2 separate regions of the Homo sapiens genome follow, and region 2 is linked to region 1. Evidence: fine-mapped expression QTL. A gene starts in region 1. The other region holds a variant in brackets. All regions are shown on one strand. Distances are between the middles of the regions.

Region 1 (11,543 bases):
CTTTTGATACTTCAGACTTCCTTCTGTGATCACTTAGAAGTTTTGTCAGACATTTGTGTTTCCATTTATTAGAAGCCTAGTGGATTTAATTAGGATATTTTAAATGGAGGATGATAGTGAAGTTGTATCTATAATTTTACTTTTGATTTTAATAAATAAATATTGAATTCAGGGCCTAGGGACTGAACAGCCGTGTCATAACATTGTTAATAAAGGAGAGACCCCATTCACCTAAATCCATTTCATAGATTTATAAGAAACAACAAGATGTTACCACTTTTCTATTTTTGCTTGTGTTGCGTGGGTTTTTGGTGTCATATCCAAAAAAATCACTGGCCAAGGCCAATGTCAAGAAGCTTTTTCCTCTGTGTTTCTTCTAAGAGTTTTACAGTTTCACATCTCATGTTTAGGTATTTAAACTAATTTGAGTGGATTTTTTGTGTATGGTGTAAGACAGGGTTCAATTTTATTCTTTTGCATATGGATACTGAGCTTTCCAACACCATTTACTGGAGAGACTATCCTGTCCTCTGTTGTGTGTTCTTGGCAGCCCTGTCAAAGAACTTGACCATCTATGCATGGGTTTATTTATGGGCTCTCTAGTCTGTTCCATTAGTCTGTTTTTAAGCCAGTACCATACTGTCTCGATTACTGTAGCCTTGTCACATACTTTGAAATCAGGACATTTTATGCCTTCAGCTTTGTTCTTGCTCAAGATTGCTTTGGCTATTTGGGGTCTTTTGTGGTTTCAAATACATTTTAGGAAAATTTTCTATTTCTATAAAAATGCCATTGAGATTTTGATAGAGATTATGTTTGAATGTGTAGGCCACTTTGAGTAGTATGGACATTTTAATAATATTAATTCTTCTAATCCATGAACACAGGATGTCTTTACATTTACTTGTGTCTGTTTTAATGTCTTCCATCAATGTTTTATAGTTTTCAGTGTTCAAGTCTTTCACTTCTTTAAGTTTTTTCTTAAGTATTTTATTCTTTTCAATGCTATTGCCTTCACAATAGCTAAAACATGGAAGCAACCTATATGCCCATTGATGGATGAATGGATAAAGAAAATATGGCATACACATACAATGGAATATTATTCTACCTTACAAAAGGAAGTTCTGCCATTTGTGACGACATGGATGAACCCAGAGAATGTTACGCTGAGTGAAATAAGCCAGATGCAGAAGGACAGAAGGATGCTACATGATATCATTTATATGATGAATCTGGAATAGTCAAACTCATAGAAGGAGGGAGTGACATGGTGGCTGTCAGGGGCTGGGAGGAGGCATAAACAGAGAGGTATTAGTCAAAGGGCACCAAGTCCAGCTTATACAATATGAGTAAGCCCTAGAGATCTACTGTACAGTTTAGTGCCTATAGTTAACAATGCTGTATTATATATTTAAAAATTTGCCAAAAAGGTAATTTCATGTTGTGATATATCACAAAAATAATAATAAATGAATAGAATAAAGGGAAACTTTTGGAAGTGATGGATATGTTTATGGTATGGATTGTGGTGATGGTTTCACAGAAGTATACTTGTCTTCAAGCTCATCAAGTTATATATATTAAATATTCACAGCTTTTTGTATATCGATCATACCTCGATAGAGTGGCTTAAAATGAAGGAATAAAACAGTGCATATCTCATGACATTAAAAAAAAAGTATCACTTTCAACTACCTTGTAAAATTACAAAAAATACAATAAATAAATAAAAGTTTAGGTTAGGCTGGGCGCGGTGGCTCACGCCTGTAATCCCAGCACTTTGAGAGGCCGAGGTGAGTGGATCACAAGATCAGGAGATCGAGACCACCTTGGCTAACATGGTGAAACCCCGTTTCTACTAAAAATACAAAAATTGGCCAGGTGTGGTGGCAGGGACCTGTAGTGCCAGCTACTCAGGAGGCTGAGGCAGGAATTGTTTGAACCGGGAAGGCAGAGGTTGCAGTGAGCTGAGATCGTGCCAGTGCACTCCAGCCTGAGAGACAGAGTGAGACTCCACCTCAAAAAAAAAAAAAAAAAAAAAAAAAAAGTTTAGATTAAACCAGAAGCTCTCTGTGGCAAACATTGGTTTCTTTTTCAGAGGGGAAATTCAACTTCAATACTGCTCAGTGGACATGAGCGAGAGTAGGGAGAGGGACATTTGTTATTTTCTCTCTTAAAGTTGTTGCTGGGGTCTTTGGTTGAGCCTAGTTCAAACTAGCGAAAGCTCAGTGAGCAGAAATAGAAGTGACACTGGTAAGAGGAACTGTATCTTCACTTTAGAGAAAGGATTCAGAAAGAAAAGAAATGCTTCCTAGAATTTCAGCCAATACAGATCAGAACCATGTCCTTTCTGAATGGGGGCTGTGAAGGGACCAGTTGAGTGCAGTTCACAATGACTGTCTATCTGGTGCTCTCAGGGAATTTAACCATTTGTTTAGGTTCATAATATATTCATCGCATTACATACCCATGAGAAGTTTGAATGATGAAAAGGTCTAGCCTTACTTTGGCTTCCTGCCAACCCAGAGAACATTGGTTGGTCCAATCTCCTTGTTCCTATTCTTAAAAAGTAAACTGATACTAATGGCACAATATATGTTATTTGGGTGATGAATACCCTAAAGACCCTGACTCCATCACTATGCAATCTACGCATGGAACAAAATGGCACTAGTACTCCCATAAATCTATACAAATAAAAAAGTAAACTGAGGCACAATACAGTTTTACAGTGCTTCTGAACCAGCAATGATTCATGAACCAGAAGTGGTTGGGGAGCTCCACCAAGGGAACACAAGAGAAGGCTTTTTCAGGACAGAGACAGAAGTAGAGCAAAGACAGCGCTTGACTGTTTACAGTTATACAGCTACCTTATTTGGTCTATCTCATTGGAAAGTCCTTAGTTATATAAGTTTGTTGGCTGCTTCTGATTGGTTGTGTTTACGTTTTCTTTAATATAGGCATTTACAAGATATAGTGCTCAAGTTATTATGTTTGCGTATGTCACTTATGTTTGCAGATCAAGCAAGGTCGAGGTCGCTTATGAGCCCTTGCTGGTTTGGTATGTTCATGGATTCTTCTGGCCTGGTCTCCATTTTAATGTACTTTAACACCATGAATAAAGGTTTACTTCTGAGACTCTAAGAGCCCGTTTAAATTAAACCTATGCATGATATTGCCTCAAATACCCAACAGCTCACTCATAATTGGATATTCATTGCTGGCACAAATGTTAAGTATTACTGAGCAATTAGTTCTCTCTATATTTGGCCCTCACAGAGTGTAATTATTGTATTGTTCAGTACTAATCTGCCTTTTCACATACATGCATTGAGAGGAGAGTCTTCTGTTTGCCCCACAATTTCAATTCTCTATATTTGTGGTTAGAAACTGCGGTGACACAATCCTCATGTCTAAATTCATTCATTCGGGAGATTGTAAAGATGGTTCCGTAAAGCCTCAGTATTGTAGGTGCTGATAATGATGATAATGAAAATGATAAACTTTCCCTTATAAATCTTATAATGAATTGACTAGACTGCCTACAGACTATACACTATCTTTGTCTATAGGTAAAATGGTTGTAATTGGCCGGGCGCAGTGGCTCACGCCTGTAATCACAGCACTTTGGGAGGCCAAGGTGGGTGGATCACGAGGTAAGGAGATCGAGACCATCCTGGCTAACACGGTGAAACCTCGTCTCTACCAAAAATACAAAAAATTAGCCGGGCGTCGTGGCACGTGCCTGTAGTCCCAGCTAGCTACTCTGGAGGCTGAGGCAGGAGAATTACTTGAACCCGGTAGGCGGAGCTTGCAGTGAGCTGAGATCGCGCCACTGAATTACAGCCTGGGTGACAGAGCAAGACTCTGTCTCAGGAAAAAAAAGATTAAAAAAAATAAAAACGGCTGTTTTATTAAGAATTGTTATTAGGAACGGGCAGAGAAGAACAGTGTCTGTGTAGTTCAGCATGTGAGTGGTAATTTGCTAATTATATCTGGCTTGTCACTCCGGTCTCTGTAACTTGCTGTGTTTTGTCAAGTGATTCTTCCAGAAATTTTGTGTATATTATCTTACTAAACTCTCATTAAAGAGGCCCCTCAAATGGAAGAAGGGAACTTAGAGTTTTTAGAATGTGAATAAATTTAAGGGACTTTGGCTTCTAGAATTCTGTAGATCTCTGTTTTGCTGGGAATATACAGCTTCCCATTATTCTGAGATTGGCTGATCTGTAATGCTGTGAAATATCAGTGTTTACTAAATTTGTTATTTTACATTTATGGGCATACATTTTTTTTTAATTCTCTCTCTCTCTTTTTTTGAGACAGGGTCTCCCTCTGTTACCCAGGCTGGAGTGCAGTGGCGCACTCATGACTCAATGCAAACTTGAATTTGCCTGGACTCAAGTGATCCTCCCACCTCAGCCTCCCAAGTAGCTGAGACTATAGGCATGCACCAACATGCCCAGCTAATTTTTGTAATTTTTGTAGAGATGGAGTTTTACCACGTTGCCCAGGTTGGTCTTGAACTCCTAGGCTCAAGCAATCTCCTAAAGTGTTGGGATTACAGGCATGATCCACTGCTCCCAGCCTTAATTCTTTTAAAAAGGGGAAAAATGAGGTTTTTCACTATTGCTCCAATCACCATCATAGCTAAATAAGTTAATGCACATAGTTAAGAAATGTACAGTAGAGAGAAAACAATCTGTGTTGTATTTAGAAACTAGCAAGAATTAAGGACTAATAATATCTGAATATGAACTGGTATTAAGCCCAAACTACTGCATCAGGAGACCATCAATAAAATTTATTTATCGAGAGCCATTCATTAGTCAACCAAAGTCGTGGGAAATTTAATCTGTATAAGGAGTCATAAGGCATAAGGGATAGGTATGAAGGATTGTTGAGATGATGTGTTTTATTTCGCTAATAATGCATATGACACCATTCCAATTTTTTTAAATTTAAAACAACAATCATTTATTTGCTTGCTTCTCAAGCCTGGGTAATCGTGTTTGGCAATGAGACCTTGTTGCATGCTTGCTAATATCCCACTGGTCAAAGCTAGTCAAATGGCCAAGCCTAGAGTCAGCGTGGGAGAAGGCCACACAAGGGTTTGAATTCTGAGGACGAGTCTCTTTCATTGAAGGCCAAAGAAACAGTCTACCTCAGAGGGTTGCTGGGGAGCTATAATGCAAAGAATAAACCTCACCCTGCCTTCAAGGCGCTCACAGAGAAGAAATCTTTTGAATATTAGTGAAGTTTTCCTGGACATCCCAATGGATAGATGTGAGGGACAGTCACGTACTCAGGACATCTGTTTGCTTATGGTGTTATGTTACAGATGTCACAAATGAAAATCAGAGACATGTAGCCCTGAGCCCAGTAACTATAAAGCGGTCTAGCTGAAGCTGGAGCCCACAAGAGGGCACTTTGCACCATGATGCACGCTTGTTTCTTGCCATCAGCTCTGCAATGAGTTCAAGCTAATGCCATGTCCCAGCCGTCCAGTTGTTTTATGACTTGTGTGATTGAAGCATATGGTGGCTTGTGGCATGTTCTTAGGCAAACCACTCACCTCCCTAGGTTTCGTTTTCCTAATTTCTCAAACAAGGGAGTTAGATTAGGTGGTCTATAGTTCCTTCCAATTGTGATATTTCACTATATAACAATATAGTTATAATAGATCATAGCACATCTGTAATGAAAAAAAGTGAGTTCATTTCTTAACAAGTACATTTACTTAACTAGTTGGAGTCATTAAAGCAAATTAAGAACGAAATTCTTAGTTAATCTGAACTTTTCTGGGCATACTGATCTGTTCCCTAACGCGTCTGACCGTGGAAAAGTGGATCAGCAGGAGTGGGACTGGCTCTCAGCTTTGCCATGTTTGGCTCTTTCTCTGCTGTGAAACTCAGTTTCTTCCTGGATCAAGAGGTTAATTTCTGCCGGTGTTATTTTACAGTGTTGCAAAGAGATAAAAGCCAGACGAAAGAAGGGAAAGTACTTCAGCTTTGATTAGGGATTTTTTTTTCTGTCCCTGTGACCATACACTACTCAATTCTGACAGCTTCGCATGAGTCTAGCAGAAAATTGAGGGATTCACTGTTATTCCTTAACTTGCAGAGGTCCAGACCCGCCCACATCAAATGGTGAGGTCCCCACTTTCAACTTTAGCTGTTGCTAAATCTGTGACCCTTTCAATGAAATCCAAGGATCTCAGCTTAAAAAAAGTTAAAATAAAATAAAAACTAGGTGTTTTTCAGAGGCGGTTTGAAACGCCTCTCTGAGGTTGTCAGAGATTGTTTTTGTTTTCTCCCTTTGCCCTTCTTGGAATGCACCAAACATAAAAGCATTTTTTTTCAAGCTTTACTTTCACTTTCGAGAGTGCCGTCTATTTGCCACACACTTCCCTGATGAAATGTCTGGATTTGGACTAAAGAAAAAAGGAAAGGCTAGCAGTCATCCAAGTAAGTGAAGGTGTTCATTTCACGTTCTTACTGGGCAGGGTCTCTCTTGCTGAGTAGAGTTTGCTAGCAGAATGCATGTGGTTTTAGCCTTCTTTGGTCTTTCTTTGATCTGGTGCTTGAAATCTAGTCAGAATTATTCAGGAAGGAAAGTGGAAGAAAAGGGATATGATATGGGCATGGGAGAAGGGTATAACTCAGAACACAAGTAATAGCACCAATATCTAGTTAATGTGATAATGTATTTATGCAGTATTTAATTTTTTTCTCTGTAGCATTCTGTACCTGGAAAAAACACATTAGGGAAGCTATGGAAATCATTTTGCAACAGTCTTTTTAGCAAATCACATCTTTGCCTTAAAGAAACAAAACTCCAAGAGGTTAAAAGAGCGTATCCCCTTTTGTTAGTTTTATTGGCTGGAGGGGAGACAGGAGCTGGCATTGTATGACAATGTCTTAGATAGGAGAGAACATTCAGGTATGCCTAGGAGTAAGTAAATGGCTTTCTTTCACCTAATGAAGGATAATGGAAGAAGTGGAGAAGTGGAAAGTTGTTAAGGTGTATGGGAAGATCAGAAACTGGTATCGGCAATTGTGGGGTACTCGGGTAAAAATGGAGTTGGCTTCAGCAAGTTGATTCCCAGGTTTACAGATGATTACGTGCTGGTATGTGTCTTCATATGGGCGTGCCTGTGTATGAACCTACTACAAAGGTTGCAAAGTTTACAAATCAAACTATGGATAGTGGTTAACTCCAGGTAGTCTGCCTCCAGACCCCATGTCCTAACCATCAGGCAATATTGTCTCTCACTTGGACAAAGAATGTGAATTCCATGTGCCCTCACAAAATATTTCCAAAATTCTAAGGCTGAGTGAGTCTCTTTTTAATTTTTTTTCATTTTCTTTATTTCTGCTAGATCTCATTCAACAGCAACGTTTTCTTCACTCTCATTTCATCCTTTAACTGCATTTTTGCTTGTTTTACTGAAGCATGTCCTAGAATAACCTTTTCATACAGATCGTATGGCTATAAACTTACTGAATTTTTGCATATCTCAAAATACTTATACCTTTTTATTTAGTTATTCAGATGGATGTGAAATTTCCCTATCTTATTTTATTTTATTTTATTTCATTTTATTTCATTTATCGATTTAGAGACAAGGTCTCGCTGTGTTGCCCAGGCTGAAGTACAGTGGCATGATCGTGGCTCACTGCAGCCTTGACCTCCCTGGCTCAAGCAATTCTCACACCTCAGTGTCACGAGTAGCTGGGACCACAGGTGTGAACCACTATGGCCAGCTAATTTAAAAAAAAATTTTGGTGGAGATGAGGTTTCCCTGTGTTGCCCAGGCTGGTCCCAAACTCCTAGGCTCAAGGGATCCTCCAGCCTCAGCTTCCTAAAGTGATGGGATTACAGGCATGAGCCACAGGTAATTTTCTTGGCCTGGTCAAAGGTAATTTTCTTGTTTTTTAGAGGTAAGGTCTTGCTCTGTTGCCCAGGCTGGAGTGCAGTGGTGTGATCATGATTCATTGCAGCCTTAACCTCCTGGGCTCAAGCGATCCTCCTGCCTCAGCCTCCCAAGTAGCTGGAACTACAGGCTTGTGCCACCACACTTGGCTACTTTCTAAAATATTTTTGTAGATACGGGGTCTCACTATGTTGCCCAGGCTGGTGTTGAGCTCCTGATCTCCTTCTGCCTACACCTTCTAAAGTGCCGGGATTGTGGGGATGAGCCACTATGCTTTGCCTGGATATGAAATTTTAAATTCAAAATAATTTTCTCTAAATGTTTGGAAAGCTTATCTCTATTGTTTTCCAGTGGTTCATGTTACTGATGAAAAGTTTTTTATTAATCAAGATCTCTTTTCTTTGGAAATGAAGGTTTTAGGATTTTTGTGTGCATGGTTGCAATTCTGAAATTTCATAGGAGTCTCTCCAAGTTTGTTCCTCTTTCACTCCTCCTGCCTAGCATTTGGTGAGTTTTGCCCACTGATGAAATGTCTTCAGATGGGGCAAGTCCTTAAGTCATTCAGGGATATGCTTTGTAATGGATTAGTCCTTCTCAGCAATTCTGACCTATAGCAGGAGCCCTACCAGAGGGGTACATCTCACCTAAGCAAGGAGAATGTATTGTAGGGACCTTACCTATGAGTTGGTAAATAGAGATAGGAAGTTCTGAAGGAACTGGAAGAGAGGTTTGGGACACTCTCAGAGAGGGGGCAGGTGGGGAGCTGGTCCCCAGCATTTGAGAGGTATCATTGCCAGCCCTGCATCCTTCACGTGCCTGGGCAAGTCAGCAAATGCATCCTTGCTGGCCTAGCTGTGGCATTCCTCATGGCCTGTGGATATAAAGAATGTGCACAGCTTTACAATGATTAGTGCCAGAGTTGTAAAGGCCATGAGATGGGAATATTAGTTTATGGAAGCCAGTTTTTTTTGTTGTTTTTTCTGTTTCTGAGAACTAAATTAGAATATTAGTAAAATCGCTATTTTTAAGTATATTAGAACAATTCTATATACTCACATTAGTTCTGTTTTCCTAGGATTAGTCACCTAAGGTGATTTTATTACCTGACACTTACCTGGAATAATTTTCATGTCATGACTTTTAGATCTTGTGGAATATCTATTTAGATATCATTACCACTGCTTCATCTCCATACCTTGTGGGTGTATTTGATTTTTTAAAATATCTGAAATTTGGTTGTTGATCACACCACAGAGTATCACACTGGGTACACATCCCACCAAAATAAAGTGTGACAATGTATGGAGTTGAGTGGCTTTCCTGAGCTGACTAAATGCCCATGGAAAGCTATTGTATGAGTGCATTCTCACATTGCTCTACAGAAATACCTGAGACTGGTCATTTATAAAGAAAGAGGTTCAATTGGCTGATGGTTCTGCAAGTGGTGCAGGCAGCATAGCAGCCTCTGCTTCTGGAGGAGCCTCAAGGAGCTTTCACCCACCACAGAAGGCAAAGCCAGAGCTGGCACCTTCACATAGCCGGAGCAGGAAGAAGAGAGAAGGGGAAGGTGCCACACACTTTTATTTTTTTATTATTTATTTTGGGGGGAGTGGGGGCGAAGTCTCACTTTGTCACCCAGGCTGGAGTGCATGTGGTGGGATCTCGGCTCACTGCAGCCTCCGCTTCCCTAGTTCAAGCGATTCTCCTGCCTCGGCCTTCCCAGTAGCTGGGATTACAGGCACCCACCACCACACCCAGCTAATTTTTGTATTTAGTAGAGACACGGTTACACCATGTTGGCCAGGCTGGTCTCAAACTCCTGACCTCAGGTGATCTGCCCACCTTGGCCTCCCAAGTGCTGGGGTTACAGGCGTGAGCCACTGCGCCCAACCACCACACACTTTTAAACGACCGAATCTCATAAGAATTCACTCACTCACTATCGGGAGAACAGCACCGAGGGGGTGGTGCTGAACCATCTGTGAGAACTCTGCCCCATGAGCCAGTCACCTCCCACCAGCCCCCACCTCCAACACTGGGAATTACAATTCAACGTGTGGTGTGGGTGGAGACGCAGAGGCAAACCATATCGGCTATGTATTCAACATATATTTATTTCTTCAGAGCCAACAAAGTGCCAGGTCTTGTTCTAGGCACAGACAACACCGTATGGAATAAGAACTATGTCCTCTACTATTATAGCTTCACATTCTAGTGAGAAGCAATAATTAATAATAAATAATACACAATATTGGATAATTTCCATCAACCATAGCAACGGAAAAGGCAATCTAGAAGAAGAGCAAGATGGGAGGTTTCGCTCACTGAACTTCAAGACTTGTTGTAAAGCTAAAGTAATCCGAACAATGTGGTATTGGCCTAAGAACTAACAAATATTTCAGTGGAAGAGAGTAGACAGCCCAGAAATAGACCCTCGCTTAAAACATTTACTCGGTTTCTAAGGAAAGCACAGAACAATCCGGTGGGGGAAAGAAGTCTCTTTAAAAAATGGTCTGACTGGACCAGGCGTGGTGGCTCACCCCTATAATCCCAGCACTTTGGGAGGCCGAGGTGGATGGATTACCTGAGGTCAGGAGTTCAAGACCAGCCTGGCCAACATGGTGAAACCCTGTCTCTACTACAAATATAAAAATTAGCCAGGCATGGTGGCGCGTGCCTGTAGTCCCAGCTACTCGGGAGCCTGAGGCAGGAGAATCACTTGAACCCAGGAGGTGGAGACTGCAGTGAGCCAAGATGGCACCACTGCACTCCAGCCTGGGTGACAGAGTGAGACTCCATCTCAAAAAAAAAACAAAAAACAAGATCTGACTGACTGGATATACACACAAAAAACCATGACTCCTACTTCATGCATACACAACAATTAACTTAGGAGAGGTCACACACCTTCACATAGAAGCTAACACCATAAAGCTTTTTAGAGGAGAGTATCTAAGTAATGGGAGTAGGAAAATTTCTTAGAGGAGACACAGAAATGATAAAAATAAAAGAGAAGATGATAAACTAGATTTCATCATAATTAAGAAGACATCAGTAAGAAAATAAATAGGCAACTCACACACTGGGAATAAATATTTACAAAATAGGAATCTGACGAAGGACTGACACTCAGATACATAAAAAATTCCTACAACACAATAATAAACAGGAAACAATCTAATAGATGAGCAAAATATTTGAACATATAAGGGAAGATAAATGAACAATAAGCACATGAAAATTGTTAAATATCGTTAGTCGGCAGGGAAATGCAAATGAAAACCATAATTAGCTATCACTATATGTTCAGCAGAATGATTAAAAATAATAATAAAAATAGGTACCAAATGTTGTCAGGAAAGTTGGTGGTGCAACACTTTCCCAAAGGATCTGGCAGTTTCCTGTAAAACCAAATGGCCTCACCAAATGGCCCAGGCATTCCAATCCTAGTTATTTACCCCAAAGAAATAGAACACAGTCATGTGGCACTTAATCATGGGGATATGTTCTGAGAAATGCATCGTGAGGGGACTTCATCCTTGTGGGAACGTCACAGGGAGTGCTTACACAGAACTAGGTAGTACAGCCTGTGGCGCCCAGCCTG
Region 2 (8,908 bases), 140 kb after region 1:
GTGCTAACCACCATACCAAATGTTGGAAATGTAGTAATGAGTAGGACATGTGTATATGGTCCGTACCTGAAAGGAAGTTATTCTAGTAGGAGAGGTGATCTATCAACACATAATTACAACATGTGATATGAGCTGTGAACACTTATGAACAAACAGGGTGCTGTGTAAAAGAATAAAGGAACAAAGATCTATGTATAGGAGTTTTCTGGAAAATGTTTGGATTCGGCAGTCATTTTCAAAGGCAGAGGGCATTGATAGCAGTATCTTAACATGGAAAACATTAAAACTAACTAGATATTAGTATTCTATTTCCAATTCAAAAATAACCAGAAGATAGTGATGTTGTTTTGAATATAGGATGTCAATCTTTGTGTTAATAATGTGTTTTGAAAAAGCAAGACTTAATTGAAAATATACATCAAATTATAATTTCAGTGTATTAAAAAACTGCCTGTTTAAATATGTCCTTTCTTTGCTGTAAATTTTGGTTAAAATCTATTGGAGTTATGTCCTTGTGGTGAAGTACACCCTACCCCCAAGAGAGCAAATGATGAATAAATCAGTAGATGTTCCATGAATGCAATGTTGGCTGAGCTGGCCACAGTGGAGTGTGATCACCTGGTTATAGGAGAATAGCCAGCAGGTTATATTTCATAATTATATTTTTCCTTAAATTTTGTGCATTAATATTTAATAGCAATAATTAAATGAATTCCAGACTGAATAGACAATTTTATTCATTGAATAAACATTGAGAATTGCCTACTGAGGCCTGGGCTCTAGGAATTCCACCAAGAATAAAAAAAGACATGGTGTTTTGCCCTCAAATTGCTTAGAATCTATTCAGGCCACTTAGTAGCAGGTTTGGTCAATTACCTGGTAGGAAAAGAAGGTTGAAATGTACAACCAAATTAAGTGTATTGGCCTTCATTCTTTTATCCATCCAAGAAATATCTAGTGAGTATTTGTTAAATGCCAAGCAGTGCTCTAGAGGTTGGAAATGTATCAATGAACAAAGACATGCACAAGCATGGCAGTGTTTGAGTTGTAAGAGAAAGATGCTAAATAATAAGTATAACGTAAGTATAATATCACATTATAATAATAAGTATGACAGAAGTATCACATAATGTCAGGTGGCAAGGGAAATGGAGAAAAAGCATTGTTAGGAGGCGTCGCAGTGCTAGGGACAGGGGTAGCAGGGATGAGGGAGGTCTCTCTGATCGTGTGACAATGAGCAGAGATCTGGAAGAAGGGAGGGGGCAGCCGTGCAGGCCTCTGAGGAAAGCATTTCAGGCAGCAGAAATCGCAAGCATAGAGGGTGAATTCACTAATCTGCTTGCTGTTTCTTTTCTCCTCTACAACATGTAATTAAGTCTATAATTAGACTGTTGTATAATGATTGCATTCACTCTACCACTTAAACTTTTTCTCATTAGCGCAATCCAATCTCTAGGGTACTATCTAGTAGACTATGATTCTATTCTTGTGTTGGAAAGACTGCAAAAATAGCACTTGAAAATTAGGAATTTGCGTGACATTAAATTTGTTTTTAAAAGTTTCACCAGATAATCCCCAAAATATTAATGAGGCTTTACTGTATTTTCACAAGAGCCTATGTTGTCGAAATGTTGAAATAGGCTTAGAAAAATAAATGAAAGAAACTAGCATATTTTATAAGAAAATGTGTTAACTAGGGTGCATCCAAGTCCAAACAGAAGCATGTGATTATCATTCAAATCATACAGGTCATCGCTGAACGGGCCAATGAAATGAACGCCAATGAAGACTGTAGAGGTGATGGCAGGGGCTCTGCCCCCTCCAAAAATAAACGCAGGGCCTTTCTTGACTTGCTTTTAAGTGTGACTGATGACGAAGGGAACAGGCTAAGTCATGAAGATATTCGAGAAGAAGTTGACACCTTCATGTTTGAGGTATTGTATATTGTTAGGTTCAGATATCATTAAACAAATTTCAGTTATTGTTAGAATCTTTAGCATTATTTTTTAAAACAATCAAATTTTAAAGTAGTTTAACTAAAGAAGATTCATTATATTTTAATTAGAAATTACAAAATTTAAGAAACTGATTAAGTACCAGCTCAACTTCTTCAGAAAACGATTTTGACTAGTGCTGGGCACAGCAGTAGACACATTTGTTTTTCCTCAAGAAAACCTAAGATTTGTCAGAGTTTTCCCAAGCAGAAGAGCAGCCAGAGATTGCTCTCAGTTCTCCATGTGGCTTCAGGCTTCCTTCTAACCTCCCAGACATGCAAGTCCACTTCCTCACCACCTGCTTTCTGAGGTTCCAGCAGATGAGCACTTAGCTGCTGCCATGAGCTACTCTACCTAGAGGACAGTTAAGAGCCCTCCAACAGAGAATCAGCCAGTTCATGATTCTAAAAAGATCTCTGATCTCAAATTTATACATACATATGTGAAGTACATTTTAGCAAGATAGCCTAAATATTAAATCCTACAAAGAGGGACTTTCTCTATATGTGGATTGCAAAATAAATAAAACATGGTTTTTAGAAGCCATGTAGTAATATCGTCCACATGGGGCAGAGTGAAAGGCACCTGAGTTTTTAATGGCTCTGCCTGCCACCCACGTGTGAGCTGCTCTGCGGCAGCCTCTGGCGGCAGTGCCAGTGTCCTGCACTCTGGTGTGAGGCTCCACGACACGGTAGAAGAAGGTTGTGTGATGGGTCTTTCGATCCGAGTTCCAGTTCAGGCTCTGTGCTGATTAGCCAAATAAGATAGTTCTGATCATTCCAGAGTTCTGTCACAATTTTCCTATGTGTAAAGCGAGAGATGGACTACGTTGGTGGTTTTAAACTTTTTTAAGCAGAAAACTTTACTGAAAATAAATCTTAAGCAGAAAATGGACATCTAAATTAGCTGAAAAGTAGAGAGGTGTTAAGTGTGTGGGCTCTAAGATCAAATCCCAGCTAACATGCTGGGACCATGACCTCAAGCACCTCACCTAGCCGTTCTGGGCCTGAATATTCTTATTTTAATAGCACAAGCCTCATGGAATAGTTATGATGATTAGATTTGTAAAGGTGCTCTGAGAATCGTGATTGGCCCATAAGTATGCGGCACATACCGGGTGTTATTATTGCATGTCGGAGTAGAGAGATCTCACATCTTCACCTTGCCCATGTACTACACACACACACGCATACACTCATGTAAACCCATGCACACACATGCACACACTTACACACACACATATGCTCATGCACATACACATGCACAGACACATGTATATACCAACATACACACATTCACATATACACACATACACAAACACATGCACACACCTACATACACTCATGCACATACATGCACACACAAACATATGTATATCCACATGCGCACACACGTGCATACACTCACACACAAATATACACACACACCCAGATACTCATGCACATACACACACATGCACACATATACCCACATGCACACATGCATGCATACACATGCATGCACACATATACCCACATGCACACATGCATGCATACACATACATGCACACACCACCCCCCACAGAGGCACACATTCATGTACATTTATGCAATCATACAAAAACACATGTACACACCTACATACACACATGCGCATATACACATACATAGATGCACATATATACACACATGCACACATAAATGCACACAGCTATGTACACTCGTGTACATAAGCACAAAGGCACACACAAATACATGTACATATCCACGTACACACATTCATATATGTGCACAACCCCATACACATATGTACACACATGTGCACACACACATCCATCTCCTACCAGGAACCTCTCAATCTCACGTAAACAATCAGAACCAGACTAATGATTTTTCTTCCAACTCTAACATTCCTTGACATTCTAATTGTTTTCTTCTTTGCATTGAAAGGGAGGCAGCATACCAGGTGTGAGTGTGATACTGTGGCCTCCTCCACAGGTCGGTGCAGGCTGTGAGTGACACTGTGGCCTCCTCCACAGGCCGGTGCAGGCTGTGAGTGTGATACTGTGGCCTCCTCCACAGGCTGGTGCAGGCTGCAACTGCCCAGGTTCCAGCTGTGAGCTAAAAGTGGGCGTCCTCCCCTGCTCCACCAGTGTGCCTCGGTGCTTTACGTTTGCCTTATCATGCTTTCTGCAGTTGGCAGATGAAATGAAATCGGAAGTTCAGCAGACTCCTCTTATGCATTTGGATCAGGCTTCCGCTCATAAATTCAAGGAAAGCTATTAAAATTGTTTAGCCAGAATACTTCCTTCCGTACTTAGACAACTGAGCACAACGGGCCGGAGCTCATCTGGAGTTCCGAGTAGGTTTTGTAACTGCAAGTGCTAGGAAAATGCAGAGGCGCCGACCTCAGGACCTGTAGGCTGTGTCTTTTAAGAATTGCAGAATAAGCCCCGAGCAATTCATTTTAGGAGCTGTTTTATAAAACAAGTACTTTGAAGATTTCTGCACAGAGAATGAAATATTACAAAAATCACTTGTGCCACATAGGAAAAATGGAAAAGTGAGATCTTTTATAGAGGAAATAATTTGTTTTTTCTTTTTGTCCTCAAAGTTTCAGAGAGGTAGATTACTGTTATTGACTTTCCAGATACATTTTTTTTTTTTCTGAAGAACTCACCACTTTTGCATATGGAAATGTGCTAGGGAGATGAGGAGGTAGATAAGAAGCCAGGTCCTGAAATATCAAATGGGTGGGAAAGAAGGTTGCCCGAGACATTACACTAGCTTAAGAGGTGGAGGCGGAGACGTTACGCTACCGCTAAGAGGTGGAGGTGGAGACGTTACGCTGGCGTAAGAGGTGGCGGTGGAGACGCTACGCTGGCGTAAGACGCGGCGGTGGAGACGCTACGCTGGCGTAAGAGGCGGCGGTGGAGACGCTACGCTGGCGTAAGAGGCGGCGGTGGAGGCGCTACGCTGGCGTAAGAGG[C/T]GGCGGTGGAGGCGCTACGCTGGCGTAAGAGGTGGCGGTGGAGACGTTTCGCTGGCGTAAGAGGTGGAGGTGGAGACGTTACGCTGGCGTAAGAGGTGGAGGTGGAGCGTCCTTACTGCACAGGGTGTGGAGGGAATGGCGTGGGCTCAGCTGGCTTTGTCATCGGACACGCCGCAGGCTCAGTTTCTGCCTCTGTTTCCCACTAAGCTGTTTAGCACAGAAGAAGTTATTTAACCACATCTTTGGCCTCAGTTTTTAATCTCTGAATTGTAAAGAACAGTAATGAGTCTTTCATGGAGTTTTTGTGCAGATTAATTCAGTTTCTGCAAAGTGCTTAGTATTTTGCCTAAAACTCAGCAAGTATGAAATGAGGTTGTTGTCAATTTTTACTGCAGAGGATATGACTTAGAACCACACCTCTACCCCCTGGTGCCCGTCATCAACAGGTGAGGCCCACCTGACAGATGGGGGAAGGCAGAGAAGTACAGCCCTGACAAGCAGGCTCGTGAAAATCAGACTTTGTTCTGTTCACAAAGGCGCAGCTCACCTCGTGCCCATGGAACGCCGCCTTTATTAACACAGCACAGGCACGTCCCACCAGCGTGCAACACCGTGCGGCGTGGAACTGCCATCTCTAGGCATGAACCTCCGCTTTGCAGGCTTGTTTCCTTGTTTGTCACCGAGGCAAGGTGCTGCACAGAATTCATTTCTTATGTTTGCAGTCACAGTGCAGTCATCAAATCCAGAGACAATTCAAAAGAGGTTTCTGGTCACTCCTAATCATCGCAGCATAACTCTGCTTTTTAAGCTATTGTTTTCTGCATTTGTAGGGGCACGATACAACTGCAGCTGCAATAAACTGGTCCTTATACCTGTTGGGTTCTAACCCAGAAGTCCAGAAAAAAGTGGATCATGAATTGGATGACGTGTTTGGTATGTTTGGCCCCTTCACTGGTTATATTGTGGTACTAAGTCTGCTGCAGAGATGTCACTGTGTTGTAAACACAGTGTAATGAGCAGGAAGGCTCCCCCACGGGATCCTTTCCAGTACCATCCCCTTTGCAAGGCCTCGTCCATTCACTCACAGGCCTCTGCCAGTCGCCTGGCAAGTGACTGTACTAGGCCGGATGCTGGGGTGCACTGATGCGTGCTGCTGTCCTCAAGGGTCTCACTGCTACCCAGGCGAAACAGAGGCTTTGAGTCATGGGTCGTGCATTTGAGTGAAGAAGGTGCTATTTGGGAGAAAGGAGGAGCTGGTGAAACTATTTAGAAAGGTACAGGAAAGCTGTTTCGCAGATTGCCTCTCACCACAAAGGAGAGAAAATGTGGATTAAAAAGGTGGATTAAGCTTCGAGGAGATACATTTCTATTACACAGCAAGCAGCCCGGAGGAAAAGTCCTGCCAGTAGGATGTCCAGGGTCCCAGACTTGCCCTTTTGCTCCCAGCCATCCCTACCATCTTGGCTTTTGTCCTCATGATTGACGTTCCAAGCATCACGTTCATCTTCAAGGCAGGAAGACAGGGGAGGTGGGGGTACCGGGTGTGTTGGTGTCCTGTGGCTGCTGCTGTGACAAATCCACAGACAGGGAGGTTCACAGCAGCGACGTCTGTTCCCTCACAGTTCTGGACACCCGAGTCAAAGATCAGTGTCATTGAGCCCACATCACCATGTGGGCAGGGCTGTGGCCCACTGGGAAAATATCCACTCCTTGTCTCTTCAGCTTCCGGTGGCTGCCAGCATTTCTTGGCTGACAGCCGCATCACTGCTATCTCTGCCAGTCTCTGCATCGCCTTCTCTTTTCTCTGGGTGTGAGTGTGTGCACGCACGTGCATGCATGTGTGGTGTGTGTGTGTGTGCATGTGTGTGCTTGTGTGTCTTTCACAAGCATACTTGTGACATACTTGTGATGGCGTTCAGGGCTCACCTGGATAATCTACCCACTGTAAGATCTTTAATTTAATCAAATCTGCCAAGAGTTCTCTTCTTCCAAATAGGGTAACATTTACAGATTGCAGGGATTAAGACCTGATATTTTGGGGCCCATTATCAGTCTGCCACAAAGAGGCTTCCATAGATTTTATCCTTGTTAAAAATCACGTGTCATATGGCCCCCAATAGCTGCAAGGTGAAAAGGAATAAAGTTGAGTTAGCCAAGCAACAAGTGGTATCTGATGCAGTTTTACAGTGAGAAGCAGGGAAAGAAAACTAAAGGAATAAAGCTGGAGAGAGAAGGCATTCTAGAAAGAGAGGAAGCAGATGAGCAACGGCACAGAAGTGGAAAGGTTTCTGGCATGGAGGGCAATAGTGGAGAGTGAGAGACCGCGAGAACTCATCTCTCATTCACTGGGAGATGAGGATGGAAAAGCAGTTTTGTGTGCAGATTGTGCTGGGACTGGAATTTCATATTAAGAGGCAAGCTTTTATTTTGCAGAATGGACACCATCTAACACTTTTGGCAACATTTTTGTCATCATTTTATCTTTTTAACACTGATTTTAGTTTTGCTTAGATTGCCTTGAGTGGATAAATTTGGTCTTCCAAAAGCTCACAAGTTCTTTTGGAATAGGCTTCAATCTTTTGTATCCCCTACAAAGTTTAGCTCATTACCAGTTTCACAAAGCTTTGTGGTCCTGCAGAATGAGTGACACAGTCATCATTACTAGAAGCTTTGCTCTGTGATTCTTGTGTTTTCTGCTCATTGTGCCTCACTTTTTCTTCTACCCCCAATCCTAGTTCTAGAATTTTTGAGCAACTAAGCTGGGCTCGGTGGCTCACGCCTGTAATCCCAGCACTTTGGGAGGCCGAGGTGGGCGGATCACGAGGTCAGGAGATCGAGACCATCCTGGCTAACACAGTGAAACCCTGTCTCTATTAAAAATACAAAAAAATTAGCCGGGCATGGTGGCAGGTGCCTGTAGTCCCAGCTACTCGGGAGGCTGAGGCAGGAGAATGACATGAACCCCTCAGGGGGCGGAGCTTACAGTGAGCAGAGATTGCACCACTGCATTCCAGCCTGGGCAGCAGAGCAAGACTCTGTCTCCAAAAAAAAAAAAAGAAAGAAAGAAAGAAAAAAACATTTGAGCAACTATTCTTTGTGTAGTGAGTTATTACTTTGCATTATTAATTAATAATTAATTATTAAATTATATTTATATTAAAAATTATATAATATATAAAATATATTAAAATATATAAAAATATTAAATAATTAATAATTAATACTTTGCAAGTATTAATTCCTTAAATGTTATTTTTTTTTTTACTGAGGTAAATGTCACATAACATAAAATCTACCATTTTAAAATGTACATTTCAGCAGCATTTAGTACCTTCACCATGTTGTACGATAGTTATGTCTACCTAATTCCGGAACATTTTCAGCACCTCGAAAGGAAACCTGGTAGGATTAAGCAGTCCCTCTTGATTCCTCCTTCCCCTGGCCCTGGAAGCCTGTGATTTACTTTCTGTCTCTCTGGATTTACCTATTCCGAGTACTTCCTATATATGGATTCGTACAATATGTGACCTTTAGTGTCTGTTTATTTTACTTGGCACATTGTCCATTTTATTTTGATAATGCATAATGTTAGAAATTCTGCTTTAGCTGTGGCTATTTAGCATCCCCTGCCTTGATCCACATGTTCTTCTTTGATGGGTATTTAGCATCCCCTGCCTTGATCCACGTGTTCTTCTTTGAAGGGTATTTGATGGATATTTAGCATCCAGTACCTTGATCCACGTGTTCTTCTTTGAAGGGTATTTGATGGGTATTTAGCATCCAGTACCTTGATCCACATGTTCTTCTTTGATGGGTATTTGATGGGTATTTAGCATCCCCTGCCTTGATCCACATGTTCTTCTTTGAAGGGTATTTGATGCGTATTTGATGGGTATTTAGCATCCCCTGCCTTGATCCACGTGTTCTTCTTTGAAGGGTATTTGATG

The links.
Region 2: its variant is fine-mapped to the expression of TLR3 in blood mononuclear cells (TOPMed, PIP above 0.99).

What each region holds. Positions count from the first base shown.
Region 1 is chr4:186,062,779-186,074,321 of GRCh38, forward strand. TLR3 (toll like receptor 3) reads left to right here and starts at 6,378. Exons shown (of 5, transcript NM_003265.3): 1 at 6,378-6,470.
Region 2 is chr4:186,199,409-186,208,316 of GRCh38, forward strand. CYP4V2 (cytochrome P450 family 4 subfamily V member 2) reads left to right here. Exons shown (of 11, transcript NM_207352.4): 7 at 1,749-1,934; 8 at 5,792-5,894. Among named protein-coding and RNA genes, the nearest start is that of CYP4V2, 12 kb to the left of the region's middle. RefSeq lists an enhancer at 2,489-2,538. The variant C/T (reference allele first, on the strand shown) is at 4,962.